Regions from separate parts of the Homo sapiens genome. Here all the other regions are linked to region 3. The links come from fine-mapping of genetic effects on gene expression. A gene starts in region 3. Each other region holds a variant in brackets. All regions are shown on one strand. Distances are from middle to middle.

What was found. PIP is the estimated chance that this variant, and not a neighbour inherited with it, causes the effect. A credible set is the group of variants that fine-mapping cannot tell apart.
Region 1: its variant is the best candidate, but not a certain one, in a credible set for the expression of ITGB7 in whole blood (TOPMed, PIP 0.76).
Region 2: its variant is the best candidate, but not a certain one, in a credible set for the expression of ITGB7 in whole blood (INTERVAL, PIP 0.62).

What each region holds. Positions count from the first base shown.
Region 1 is chr12:53,144,967-53,149,135 of GRCh38, reverse strand. No RefSeq gene overlaps it. Among named protein-coding and RNA genes, the nearest start is that of ZNF740, 34 kb to the left of the region's middle. The variant G/A (reference allele first, on the strand shown) is at 1,869.
Region 2 is chr12:53,170,870-53,175,222 of GRCh38, reverse strand. CSAD (cysteine sulfinic acid decarboxylase) reads left to right here. Exons shown (of 17, transcript NM_001244705.2): 3 at 1,453-1,495; 4 at 1,747-1,878; 5 at 2,575-2,701; 6 at 2,787-2,877; 7 at 3,235-3,341; 8 at 3,782-3,897. The coding sequence starts at 1,753. Among named protein-coding and RNA genes, the nearest start is that of ZNF740, 7.7 kb to the left of the region's middle. RefSeq lists enhancers at 1-344, 3,211-3,710. The variant G/A (reference allele first, on the strand shown) is at 2,516.
Region 3 is chr12:53,205,457-53,209,456 of GRCh38, reverse strand. It overlaps ITGB7 (integrin subunit beta 7), which reads left to right and starts at 2,206. Exons shown (of 16, transcript NM_000889.3): 1 at 2,206-2,255.

The DNA of each region.
Region 1 (4,169 bases), 60 kb after region 3:
ACAGAGTTGTGGTGCCTGATTGACCCACCCTCCTTTCTTTTTTTTTTTTTGAGATGGAGTCTCGCTCTGTCGCTGAGGCTGGAATGCAGTGGCGCGATCTCGGCTCACTACAACTTCCGCCTCCTGGGTTCAGGCGATTCTCTTGCCTCAGCCTCCCGAGTAGCTGGGACTACAGGCAGGTGCCACCCTGCCCGGCTAACTTTTTGCATTTTTAGTAGAAACGGGGTTTCACCGTGTTAGCCCAATCTGACCAATTGGGACCAACTGATGGTCCCAATCTCCTGACCTCTTGATCTGCCCGCCTCGGCCTCCCAAAGTGCTGGGATTACAGGCATGAGCCACTGCACCCAGCCGACCCACCCTCCTTTCTAGAGTTTTTAAATGTTAAGTGGAGGAACTTGGAGGTTGGGTTTTTGTTTGTTTGTTTGTTTTTTGAGACCGAGTTTCGCTCTTGTTGCCCAGGCTGGAGTGCAGTGGCCTAGGCTCACAGCAACCTCCAGCTCCCGGGTTCAAGTGATTCTCCTGCCTCAGCCTTCCTGAGTAGCTGGGATTACAGGCATGTGCCACCATGCCCGGCTAATTTTGTATTTTTAGTAGAGACAGGGTTTCTCCATGTTGGTCAGGCTGGTCTGGAACTCCCGACCTCAGATGATCCGCCCGCCTCGGCCTCCCAAAGTGCTGAGATTTCAGGTGTGAGCCACCACACCCGGCTGGAGGTTGGGTTTTGTATAAAGATGGCAGTGTTTTCACAACCCTTGATTTAGCATTAGCATTACAAGTTTCATAGAATTATGGCCCATGGAGGCTGAGGCAGGAGAATTGCTTGAACCCGGGAGACGGAGGTTGCGGTGAGGTGAGACAGCACCATTGCACTCCAGCCTGGGCGAAAGGCAAGACTCTGTCTCAAAGAAAAATAATAAAAAAAAAAAAAAATAAAGATAATGGCTATTCAGGACTGTTTCTTCTTAGGTAAACTTTGGTAGTTTTTGTCTGTTAAGAAATTTGTTTTGGCAGCCGGGCATGGTGGCTCACGCCTGTAATCCCAGAACTTTGGGAGGCTGAGGTGGGTGGATTGCTTTGAGCTCAGGAGTTTGAGACCAGCCTGGGCAACATGGTAAAACGTCATCTCTACCAAAAAAAAAAATACACACACACACACACACACACACACACACACATATACGTGTATATATACGCGTGTATATACGCGTGTATATAAGCGTGTATATACACGTATATATATACGTATATGTGTATAATACGTCTATATACGTATATATACATACACATATATACATACACACGTATACATGCATATATACACACATATATACATACATATATACATGTATACGTGTATGTATACATATATACGTATATATACATATATACGTGTATATATACATATATACATATACACATATGTGTGTGTATATACATATGCATATATGTGTGTATATATACATATACATATATGTGTGTATATACGTATACATACATGTGTATATATATACATGTACATACATGTGTATATATGTATACATGTACATATGTGTATTTATGTACACATATGTACATATGTGTATTTATGTACACACATGTACATATGTGTATATATGTATACGCATGTACATATATGTGTATATATGTATACACATGTACATATATGTGTATTTATGTATACGCATGTACATATATGTGTATTTATGTACACGCATGTACATATATGTGTATTTATGTATACACATGTACATATATGTATTTATGCATACACATGTACATATGTGCACATACGTATACATACATGCACATATATGTGTATATATGTATACATATATGTATGTATATGTGCATATACGTATACATAT[G/A]TGCACATATACATGTGTATACACATATGTATGTATATGTATATATACACATATATGTGTGTGTATATGTATATATACACATATATATGTGTGTAGGTGTGTATATGTATATATACACATATGTGTGTGTATGTGTGTGTGTATATATATATATGCACACACCCCTATATATATGTGTATGTATATATAACTAGCCAGGCTTTGGTGGCTTATGCCTGTAATCCCAGCACATGGGAGGCTGAGGCTGGAGAATTACTTGAGCCCAGGAAACAGAGGTTGCAGTGAGCTGAGATCGTGCCACTGCACTCCAGCCTAGGTGACAGAGTGAGATCCTGTTTCAAAAAAAGAAAGAAAGAAATTTGTCTTGGGGACACTGCCTATGAGGTAGCCCTGTTCCACAAGAAGCAGTTAAAAAAAAACAGTCTCTTTTCTTTCCTTTTTTTTTTGAGATGGGGTCTCACTCTATCTCCCAGGCTGGTCTCAAACTCCTGGGCTCAGGCAATTCTTCCATCTCAGCTCCCTGAGTAACTGAGACTACAGGAGCATGCTTCAAGCCTGGCTATTTTTTTTTTCTTGTAGAAATGGGGTCTTACTTTGTTGCCCACACTGGTCTCAAACTTCTGGCTTTAAGCGATCCTCCCGCTTCACTCTCCCAAGAGCTGAGATTACAGGCATGAGCCACCAAACCTGTCCAGAAATTTGTCTATTTCATCTACGTTTCAGCACTTATTGACATAAACTTATTTTCTTATTATCCTTTCAGTTCTGTAGAACCTATATTGTCACTTTTTTCATTTCTGATATTAATTATTTGTGTTTTCTCCCTTTTTTTTCTTCCTGTTCATTTTAGTGAGAGGTTTATTGCTGTGATGGTTGATTTTTTTTTTTGGTAGGGATGATGTGTTCTTTTTTTGTTGTTGTTTTTTGAGATGGAGTCTTGCTCTGTTGCCCAGGCTGGAGTGCAGTGGCATGATCTCGACTCACTGCAACCTCCACCTCCTGGGTTCAAGCAATTCCCCAGCCTCTGCCTCCCAAGTGGCTGGGACTACAGGTGCATGCCACCACTCCTGGCTAATTTTTGTATTTTGTTTTAGTAGAGACGGGGTTTCACTGTATTGGCCAGGTTGGTCTGGAACTTCTGATTTCAAGTGATCTGCCCACCCCAGTCCCCCAAAGTGCTGGGATTACAGGCGTGAGCCACCTCGCCTGGCCTGGGATGGTGTTTTGCTATGTTGGCCAGGCTGGGCTCAAATGAACCTCCTGCCTCAGCTTCCCAAAGTGCTGGGATTAGGGACATGAGCCCTAATGTCTGGCCTGTGACGGTTGATGTTGTATGTCAACTGGCCTAGGTTAGAGAGCTGGTAGACATTATTTCTGGGTGTGTCTGTGAGGCTGTCTCTAGAAGAGCTTGCATTTGAATTGCTGTACTGAGGAAAGAAGATCTGTCCTCATCAATGTGCAGGCATCATCCAATCACTGAGGGCTCAATAGAACAAAAAGGTGAGGAAAGGGCACATTCTCTGTCTTCTTGAGCTGGGACATCAATCTTATGCCCTTGACACTCACCTGAGGACACTGGAGGTCCTGGTTCTCAGGCCTTTGGACTCTGGGATGACACCATTTCCTGCCCTGGTTCTCAGGCCTTTGGCCTCAGACTGGGAGCTCTGCCACTGGCTGCCCTAGTTCTCATGCCCTTGGACTCTGATTGAGTAACACCCCTAGCTTTCCTGATTCTCCAGCTTACAGATGGCATATCATGGGAATTCTTGACCTCCATAATTGTGCAAGCCAATTCCCGTGATAAATCTCTTACATATTTACATATATCCTAATGGTTCTGTTTCCCTGGAGAATCCTGACTAATACAATTGCAACTGATCTTCTCAAAGAACCAACCTTGGTTTCACTGGGTGTCTTTATTGTTATCTACTTAATTGATTTCTGCTTTAATCTATTATTTCCTTTATTCTGCTTATTTTGAGTATAATCTCCTCTTTTCTAGTTTGTTAAGGTGGAAGCTGAGGACATTGGTTATAGATTTTTCTTCTTTTCTACTATAGGCATTCAGTGCTATAAATTTCTAAGTACTGCTTCAGGCTTTTTCTTCTTCTTTAAAAAGAATTTTTTTTTTTTTACATTTTTAGTAGAAATGGGGTTTTACCATGTTGGCCAGGCTGGTCTCGAACCCCTGGGTTCAAGTGATCCGCCTGCCTAGGCCTCCCAAAGTGCTGGGATTACAGGTGTGAGCCACCACTCCTGGCCCAACTTCAGTTTTATCCCATACATTTTATCTCATAAATT
Region 2 (4,353 bases), 34 kb after region 3:
GTCCTTGAAGCCTGTCCTGGGCCAGTTGAACTTTCCTGCCTTTCCATGGTGACCTCTCAACTCCCTCTTGTGGCAATTTCCCTTTATTTTACATGCAGGTCTCTCTTGCCAGCCTGTTAGCTGGAGCCCACAGGGCAGATGCAGCACCTAGGGTAATGCCAGCCAGGCGCTCAGAAGTAGACAACACTCAGTCAATGTTTGCTGAACAAACTGAACCCATTCCCTTCCCTGAGAGCCAGCGGGGGTTGAGGGGTTGCGTAATAGAGATGAGCAGTGTGTGGCTCCCTTTGCCTTCCATTAGACCTTTGATAACAGTGGATTGAGGAGTTGGGAAACCACATGATGTGCAAGGGACATTCCTTGAGCCTGATGATTTGTATATTTTAGAATTCTTGTACCCCCTTAATTCCTCCATATATATATATATTTTTGAAATGGAGTCCCACTCTGTCGCCCAGGCTGGAGTGCAGTGGTACCATCTTGGCTCAGTGCAACCTCCGCCTCACAGGTTCAGGTGGATCCTGCCTCAGCCTCCTGAGTAGCTGGGATTACAGGCACCCGCCACCACGCCCGGCTAATTGTGTATTTTTTAGTAGAAATGAGGTTTCGCCATGTTGGCCAGGCTGGTCTCAAACCCCTGACCTCAGGTGATCCACCCACCTCAGCATCCCAAAGTGCTGGGATTACAGGTGTGAGCCACCACACGCGGACAATTTTTATATTGTTTAAAAAGAACCGTTATTTTAATTCCATAAGCAATGTGAAATGATTGTATAAAGTTATAAAAATATAGATGTGTATAAATAATAAACTTAAAAATCATCCATAACAACACCCAGAAATAGCCACAAATGAATATTTTGAAGTCTTTTTCCTTCTTTTTCAGTATTTTCTTTTTTTCTTTTTTTTTTTTTTGAGATGGAGTCTCGCTCTGTCGCCTAGGCTGGGGTGCAGTGGCGCGATCTCTGCTCACTGCAAGCTCTGCCTCCCGGGTTCACGCCATTCTCCTGCCTCAGCCTCCAGAGTAGCTAGCTGGGACTACAGGGGCCCGCCACCACACCCGGCTAATTTTTTGTATTTTTAGTAGAGACGGGGTTTCACCGTGTTAGCCAGGATGGTCTCGATCTCCTGACCTCGTGATCCGCCCGCCTCGGCCTCCCAAAGTGCTGGGATTACAGGCGTGACCCACTGCGCCTGGCCTGTATGACCCGTTTTACATGAAATGGCCAGACTAGACAAATCTACAGAAACAAAGTAGATTAGTAGTTGCCAGGGGTCGGGGAAGGGGAGAATGGGAAATGACTGCTACTGAGGTTTTTTTTTGGGTGATGAAAATGTTCTGGCGTTAGATAGTGATGATGGTTGCAACAACTTTGTGAATTTATGAAAAAAACACTTAATTGTACACTTTTCACCCCACTTCCTCTGCCATCTTGGTCCTGCTGTCCTGAGGAGCTACCTGTGCACCCTGCCTCCGGCTCTCCTGAGCAGAGAGGTAAGCTTGTCTCTGCCTTAGGTGGAAATGGCCACTAGAGTCCACTTGCTCAGCACTGACTGCCTTTTCTCTCCCACCTGTTCCCACTGGTTTTCTCCCTGGGCACTCTCACTTGCCCTTGTCTGTGCACTGGAGGCCGAGACTGAGCTGCAGGGTTTGGGCCTCAGGCCCGTTTGGGAGAGGAGGCTCCTGCTGGGTAGGTCCGGGAAGGGTTGACAGGCTGAGTAGGGAATGACTCTGCTCTGCCACAGATCCTGATGGCTGACTCAGAAGCACTCCCCTCCCTTGCTGGGGACCCAGTGGCTGTGGAAGCCTTGCTCCGGGCCGTGTTTGGGGTTGTTGTGGATGAGGCCATTCAGAAAGGAACCAGTGTCTCCCAGAAGGTGAGTCCTTTCTTCCTCCTCCTTCCCATCAAGCTTTCTTTCTTTTCTTTTCTCTTTTCTTTTTTCCTTTCTTTTCTTTCTCCCCCCCCCTTCCTTCCTTCTTTCTTCCTTCCTTTTTTCCTTTCTTCCTTTCTTTCTTGACAGAGTCTCGCTCTATCGGCCAGGCTGGAGTGCAGTGGCACAATCTTGGCTCACTGCAACCTCCGTCTCCCGGGCTCAAGCAGCTCTCCTGCCTCAGCCTCCCGAGTAGCTGGGATTACAGGCATGTGCCACCACGCCCGGCTAATTTTTGTATTTTTAGTAGAGACGGGGTTTCACCATGTTAGCCAGGCTGCTCTCGAACTCCTGACCTCAGGTAATCTGCCTGCCTCGGCCTCCCAAAGTGCTGAGGTTACAGGCGTGAGCTACCACGCCTGGCCCAAGCCTTCTCTTTCTCTTTCCAAATCTGGCTCAGAACTTTCCTCCTTTGATAAGATTTCTCCCCAGAATTCATCCCTGCCCCCCTGGGTACCTCAGGGATTTACATTCTGGGTCTTACTGTGTTCACTACTCTTGTTCATTTTCAGAGTTTTGCTTTGGAAATATCCCGAAGTTGTTTTTAGTGCAGGTTGGCCGTGTCTCGTGTCTGTGGAGGTGT[G/A]GTTTGACAGCCAGTCCACAGGCATCCCAGGCCCCCAGCATCCCCGGCTCTCTTCCTAGGTCTGTGAGTGGAAGGAGCCTGAGGAGCTGAAGCAGCTGCTGGATTTGGAGCTGCGGAGCCAGGGCGAGTCACAGAAGCAGATCCTGGAGCGGTGTCGGGCTGTGATTCGCTACAGTGTCAAGACTGGTGGGCCCTGGCTTCTGTGAGGAGGAGACTTGGGAGTTTGCCCTGAGCTCTACTCTGAGCTCCCTGGCTTACTCTCCTTCTCCAGGTCACCCTCGGTTCTTCAACCAGCTCTTCTCTGGGTTGGATCCCCATGCTCTGGCCGGGCGCATTATCACTGAGAGCCTCAACACCAGCCAGTGAGCATCCCAAGGCCCCTCTACCATCCCACAAAGGATTTAGGTTTGCTAGAGAGGTGCCTGAGGGGTAGGGGAGGAGAATGGTTCTGCCCTCTCTCTACTGCTTCTGGGAATCCCTGTCGGCAGAGAGTTTTTCCTCATATCCTTTGGACCCACTTTCTCCAAACTTTCTCAGGCCTCCTGACCCCTGTTTTCTCTTTCTTGCTTCCCTGGTTCTGTCACCAACTCGTTCTTCTCCTTGGACTGTTGCTTTGCTCACTCTTCACTGCCTCCTTTTTGTGACTCCTGTGCAGTTTAAGGGCCTGTCTGGGCAGTCCCTCCCCATCTCTCCTTTCTCGTCGTTCTCTCTCCTGGCAGGTACACATATGAAATCGCCCCCGTGTTTGTGCTCATGGAAGAGGAGGTGCTGAGGAAACTGCGGGCCCTGGTGGGCTGGAGCTCTGGGGACGGAATCTTCTGCCCTGGTTTGTGAGAAGGAGGAGGACCTTTCTTTGCCCTTTTTATGAGTTCCTCCTCCCCCACCGTTCTCTTGCTCTAGTGTCTGGCAGGGAGGGATGATTCCTCTTTGATTCCTCTCCAGCTGGACCCAGGCCAGGCCAGGGAGGCGGCTGCCTGGTCCCTTCATGCTCATGTTTGTCACCATTCCCTGGGGTCAGTGGTCTAGTTCCTGCTATCTCCGGACGGGGGCTGTCTCTTGGGGGCAGCCCCAGATGTGGAGAGGTGTGGTCAAGAGGATCTGCTGATCCTGGATCCATTCTGGGATGGTATGATCCTGAGAATTGTGGCCTGGGAGCCAGTCATACCTGCTTCTTTGATGAGCTCTTCTGGTAGAAAGGGAAGGGAGGCAAGCTCCAGTCTTGACCCACTGCTCCTTCCTCTTGCCACCGCCCCCTCCCTGTGACAGGTGGCTCCATCTCCAACATGTATGCTGTAAATCTGGCCCGCTATCAGCGCTACCCGGATTGCAAGCAGAGGGGCCTCCGCACACTGCCGCCCCTGGCCCTATTCACATCGAAGGAGGTGGGGAAGAGGCACAGGCCCAACCCTGGGCTCCTGATTCTAATCTCCAGCCAGCTAAGTAGAGACCTTCCAGGTCTTCTCCCTGCCCTCCCTACATCCTCCAAGGCCAGCCTGCCCCCAGGCGGATGTGCTTCCTTCCAATCAAGGAGGTCAAGTAACTGCTCCTGTTCACATTGCCTTCTGTTTGGGGGCAGAGGAGGGGCCGTGAGTGCAGTGGACACAGTCCATACTCTTCCTACTCAAGAGTGTGGTCTGTGGACCAGCAGCATTGGTATGACCTGGGGCTTGTTAGAAATGCAGAATCTGGCCGGGCACGGTGACTCACGCCTGTAATCCCAGCACTTTGAGAGGCTGAGGTGGGTGGATTGCCTGAGCTCAGGAGTTTGATACCACCCTGGGAAACATAGTGAAACCCCCTCTTTACTAAAATACAAAAAATTAGCCAGGCATGGTGGT
Region 3 (4,000 bases):
TCCCCCCACCCTCTCTGTTCCCACTCTTCACCCCATGACCTCCACTCACTGCCACCTGCACTGTTACCTTCTTTCCGAATATCTGTCCTTGCTCCCACACGCCTTCCCTCTGCAACACGCCTTTGCAGTGCCTTTGGCCTCTACTGCTGCACCCTGTACTCTTCCCTTCGCCCTCTGTGACTCCCCTCAAGCCCCTCCTCCGTGTCCTACCTTCCCTGGGACAGTGCCTTGCCTACCTTGTTCCTGGCTCTCTTCATTGGTGACCTGTGGTTATGACAAAAAAGTTGAGGATGTGGGAGTAGGGGAGAGAAGAGTGGAGGGCGGAAAGCAGAAGAAGAAAGTGAAAGAAGCTCTAGAGGAAACCACAGGGCCTGTGGGGAAGGAGGGTCATTGCCGTGGTAACCCCTGGTTGTGGGGGAAGGGTATAGGTCCTGGCTATCCCATAGCCTGAGGCCAGCCAAGCCCACCCAGAGAAAGAGCCCCTCCTCTCCAATTGTCCCCTCCTAGCAGCTACACCTCTGCAATCCATCTGACATTTATTGAGCACCTACTATAAGATGGGCACTTGGCTAGGTGTGGTGGCTCCAGCAGGGAAGCCTTGTAGAGCCAGTCCCTGCCTACAAGGAGTGCTCCTTCTGGTAGGGGAGATCGACCTGTGAACACAGACCTCATGTCTAGTTCCCTCTCAAAGCTCTTAGTGATCTGTATGGGCCAGGAGCAAATCCCATTAATATTTTCCTGCTCTCCCTACGGGCTTCATCCTTGCCTTGGCTTCAGCTGTTGTTCCTGCACTCTCTGCTTCTCCCAGTTCACCTCCTCCACCCCTTTCCCAGGATCCACTACTGTGTTGGCTCCTGGTTCCCCAATCACATGCTCTGAGCCTGGCCCTATGCCTCTCTCTTCCAAGTTTCCAGTTGTGTGGACCTTGAATTTCTCAAAGCCTCTTCACTTCTCACCTCTGCTACTTCTCATCCCTACTAATTCTCTTATCAAGCCCTTACTTAGTATGTGCCAGGTAGTCTTGTAGGCAATTGATATGAATTATCTCTTTTAATTCTCACGACAATCCTGTGAGTCTTGCTGGACAGATGAGAAAACAGCTGCAGGCAGGTTTAAGTAACTCAGCTAAGCTCCTTACTACTAGTAAGTAGTAGAGCCAGGATTTGAACTCTAGCAACTTGGCTCCAGAGCCTATGTAGTCAAGCACACTTATATAATGTATCCTGGGTTTTCAAAATGAACAAGTCTGTAATTTCTGGCCTCTCTACAGTACTTACTGCCCCTATTCCCTCCTATCATGTTCCTTCCTATATAAGTAAATGGAGAGATCATGAATTTTGGAGGCAGGCAGACCTGGATTTAAATCCCAGACCAGCCGAGTGTGCCTGTAATCCCAGCTACTCAGGAGGCCAAAGTGGGAGGATTGCTTGAGTCCAGGAGTTACAGACCAGCCTGGGCAACACAGCAAGACCCTGTCTCAAAAATAAAAAACAGGCTGGGCATGGTGGCCCACACCTGTAATCCCAGCACTTTGGGAGGCCGAGGTGGGCAGATCAATTGAGGTCAAGAGTTTGAGACCAGCCTGGCCAACATGGTGAAACCCCGTCTCTATTAAGAATATAAAACGTTGCTGGGCATGGTAGTGCACCCCTGTAATCCCAGCTATTCGGGAGGCTGAGGCAGGAGAATCGCTTGAACCTGGGAGGCGGAGTTTGCAGTGAGCTGAGATTGTGCCATGGGACAGTGAGCTGAGATTGTGCCTGGGAAACAGAGCAAGACCCTGTCTCAAAAGTTAAATTAAATTAAAATAAAAAAAATAAAATAATAAAAATTTAAAATAAAAATCTTTTTTCTTTTTTTTTTTTAAATCCTAGACTAGCTACTTACTAGCTGTGGGACCTTGGGCAAAATTCTTTATTTCCTGCTTCCAAGCCTCAATCTCTGCATCTGTAAAATTGGGGCTTGGGGGAATATTAACCCCTATCTTATGAGATTGTTGTGAGGGTTAATTGTAATATGTTACGTTCAACACATGACAGGGGTTCAATAAATGGGCTTCTTTCTTCCAGATCTCTGTATTGTCCACTCCCTTGGCTCAGCCCCACCCCTATCTGCACCACCTTCTAGATCAGTCACCCCCACCAACCCCAAATCTTCCCCACCCTGGGGAGTGTCACTTCCTCCTCTGCCGTCTCCCAGATCAGTACACAAAGGCTGCTGCTGCCGCCAGAGGAAGGACTGCTCTGCACGCACCTGTGAGTACCAGGGCACCAGCCCTTCTGCCTCCTCTCCTTACAAGCTCTGGCCCACCTGGTCCCAACCTCTTGGGAAGAGGGCTCTGACCTGGATACCGAGGGTCCTGTCCAGACTTGAGAAAGGCTCTGAACTCCTTTCTGCATTCCTAAGATCCCCTGACCTGGTTCCCTCCTCCAGTTTCACAGTACCCCCACCTCCACCTCTCCAAAAGCCCAATCTCTCCTGCATCAGTTTCCCATGAGTGGGTCTGGAGGCAGGGATGTATATGAGTGCTGTCATCTGAGTGCCTGCCATGTGCCAAGGACTATACCGAAGTAGGGCAGGTATACCGATTATACTGAGGGAGGGTTCTTCCAACATCACCCCCAGCTGCTATCCCTAATGCTCTGCCTTCAGCTCAGACTTCTTCCTAATCGGCACCTTGGTCACAGACTCCACTGTCCTGGGACACTGAGGCCCAGCAGCTCAGTTCCGTCCCCTCCTTGTGACTCCCAGTGGGCAGCAGAGGGTTCTGCTTGATTTGGAAGGTAGGGATGGGTTTGGAAGAGGCTCTGTTTCTCAGCTGCTGAGGGGGGTCACAGGGTGTGTACTGGAGTCAGAATGGAGTCCAGAAAAATGGAAATAACCACTTGGTCCCAGAGAGAGAAGGGAAGACTGCAGAATACCCCTAAGGAAAGAGAAATGGGATTAGGCAGAGCCCACCAGGGCTAGTGGGGAGAGAACACAACTTTTGATGGAGATAGTGCCTGGGTTGGAGGGAGGAAAGGAGAAAGCACAGCAGAGGCCTGGCCCTGCCCTGTCCTGCCCTGCCCCTAGTTCACTGGGTGACCCTGGCCTCATGGAATTTAGGTTTCCATTTGTAAAAAGAGTGGGATGGAGTAGTAGATTCAGCCATTCTATAGTTAGGAACAGAGGGGAAAAGGAAGTAAAATAGCCCTATGAAGAAGTGGAGCAGAGAAAAGCAGCAGAGAGATGCAATAGAAGTTTTGAAATGAAAGGAGCCAGAGAGAGACAGAGAAGCAGACAGAGAAATAGGTGGCAGAACATGTATTCTCAAGGAGGGGAGAAGAGAGGATAATTGGAAAGAAAGGTAGGAAAGGGCTGTCCAGGAAGTCCCAGGGCCCCCTTTAAGGGGAGATGAGTGGGCCTAAGGTCTCTGAAAAACCTATGCGGCAGCCGGGGCTCCACTTGTGAGAGATGAGTCAAAACCCGGCTTTGGGTTGCAGCATCTCCAGCCTCCCTGACCACAGGCATGCAGAGCAAGCAGGGCTGAGGTTACGCTGAGGCTGAGCTGGGACTGGCCTCTCCCCGAGGGGTGGAGGCTCCGTTATATATGGCGCCTGAGGTCACAGGTGGTGGGGAGCAGGACCAGGACATTCAAGGACTCAACACCCCACCCCTTTCCCACACTCTGTGCAGAGTATCTGGACCTGACTCTGGGCCCAGGCTGAAGAAGATGCAAATGGTTTATGACAAGGAGTTAGTTGGCCTTTCTCATACATTGCTGATGGGAATGTGGACCAGTACAAGTCCTGAAGAGTTTATGTTGGCAATACCCACCTATATATATATATTTCTTAGCATGAGAATGTAGATGAAATACACACCAGTATTACAAATGATACCTATCTAGTTATCCTGCACGTCCTCTGCTAGGGATTTATCCTACAGATTCAGTTGCAGACGTGTGAAATGATAAATACATGACATTTGGCTGGGGGTGATGGCTCACGCCTGTAATCAC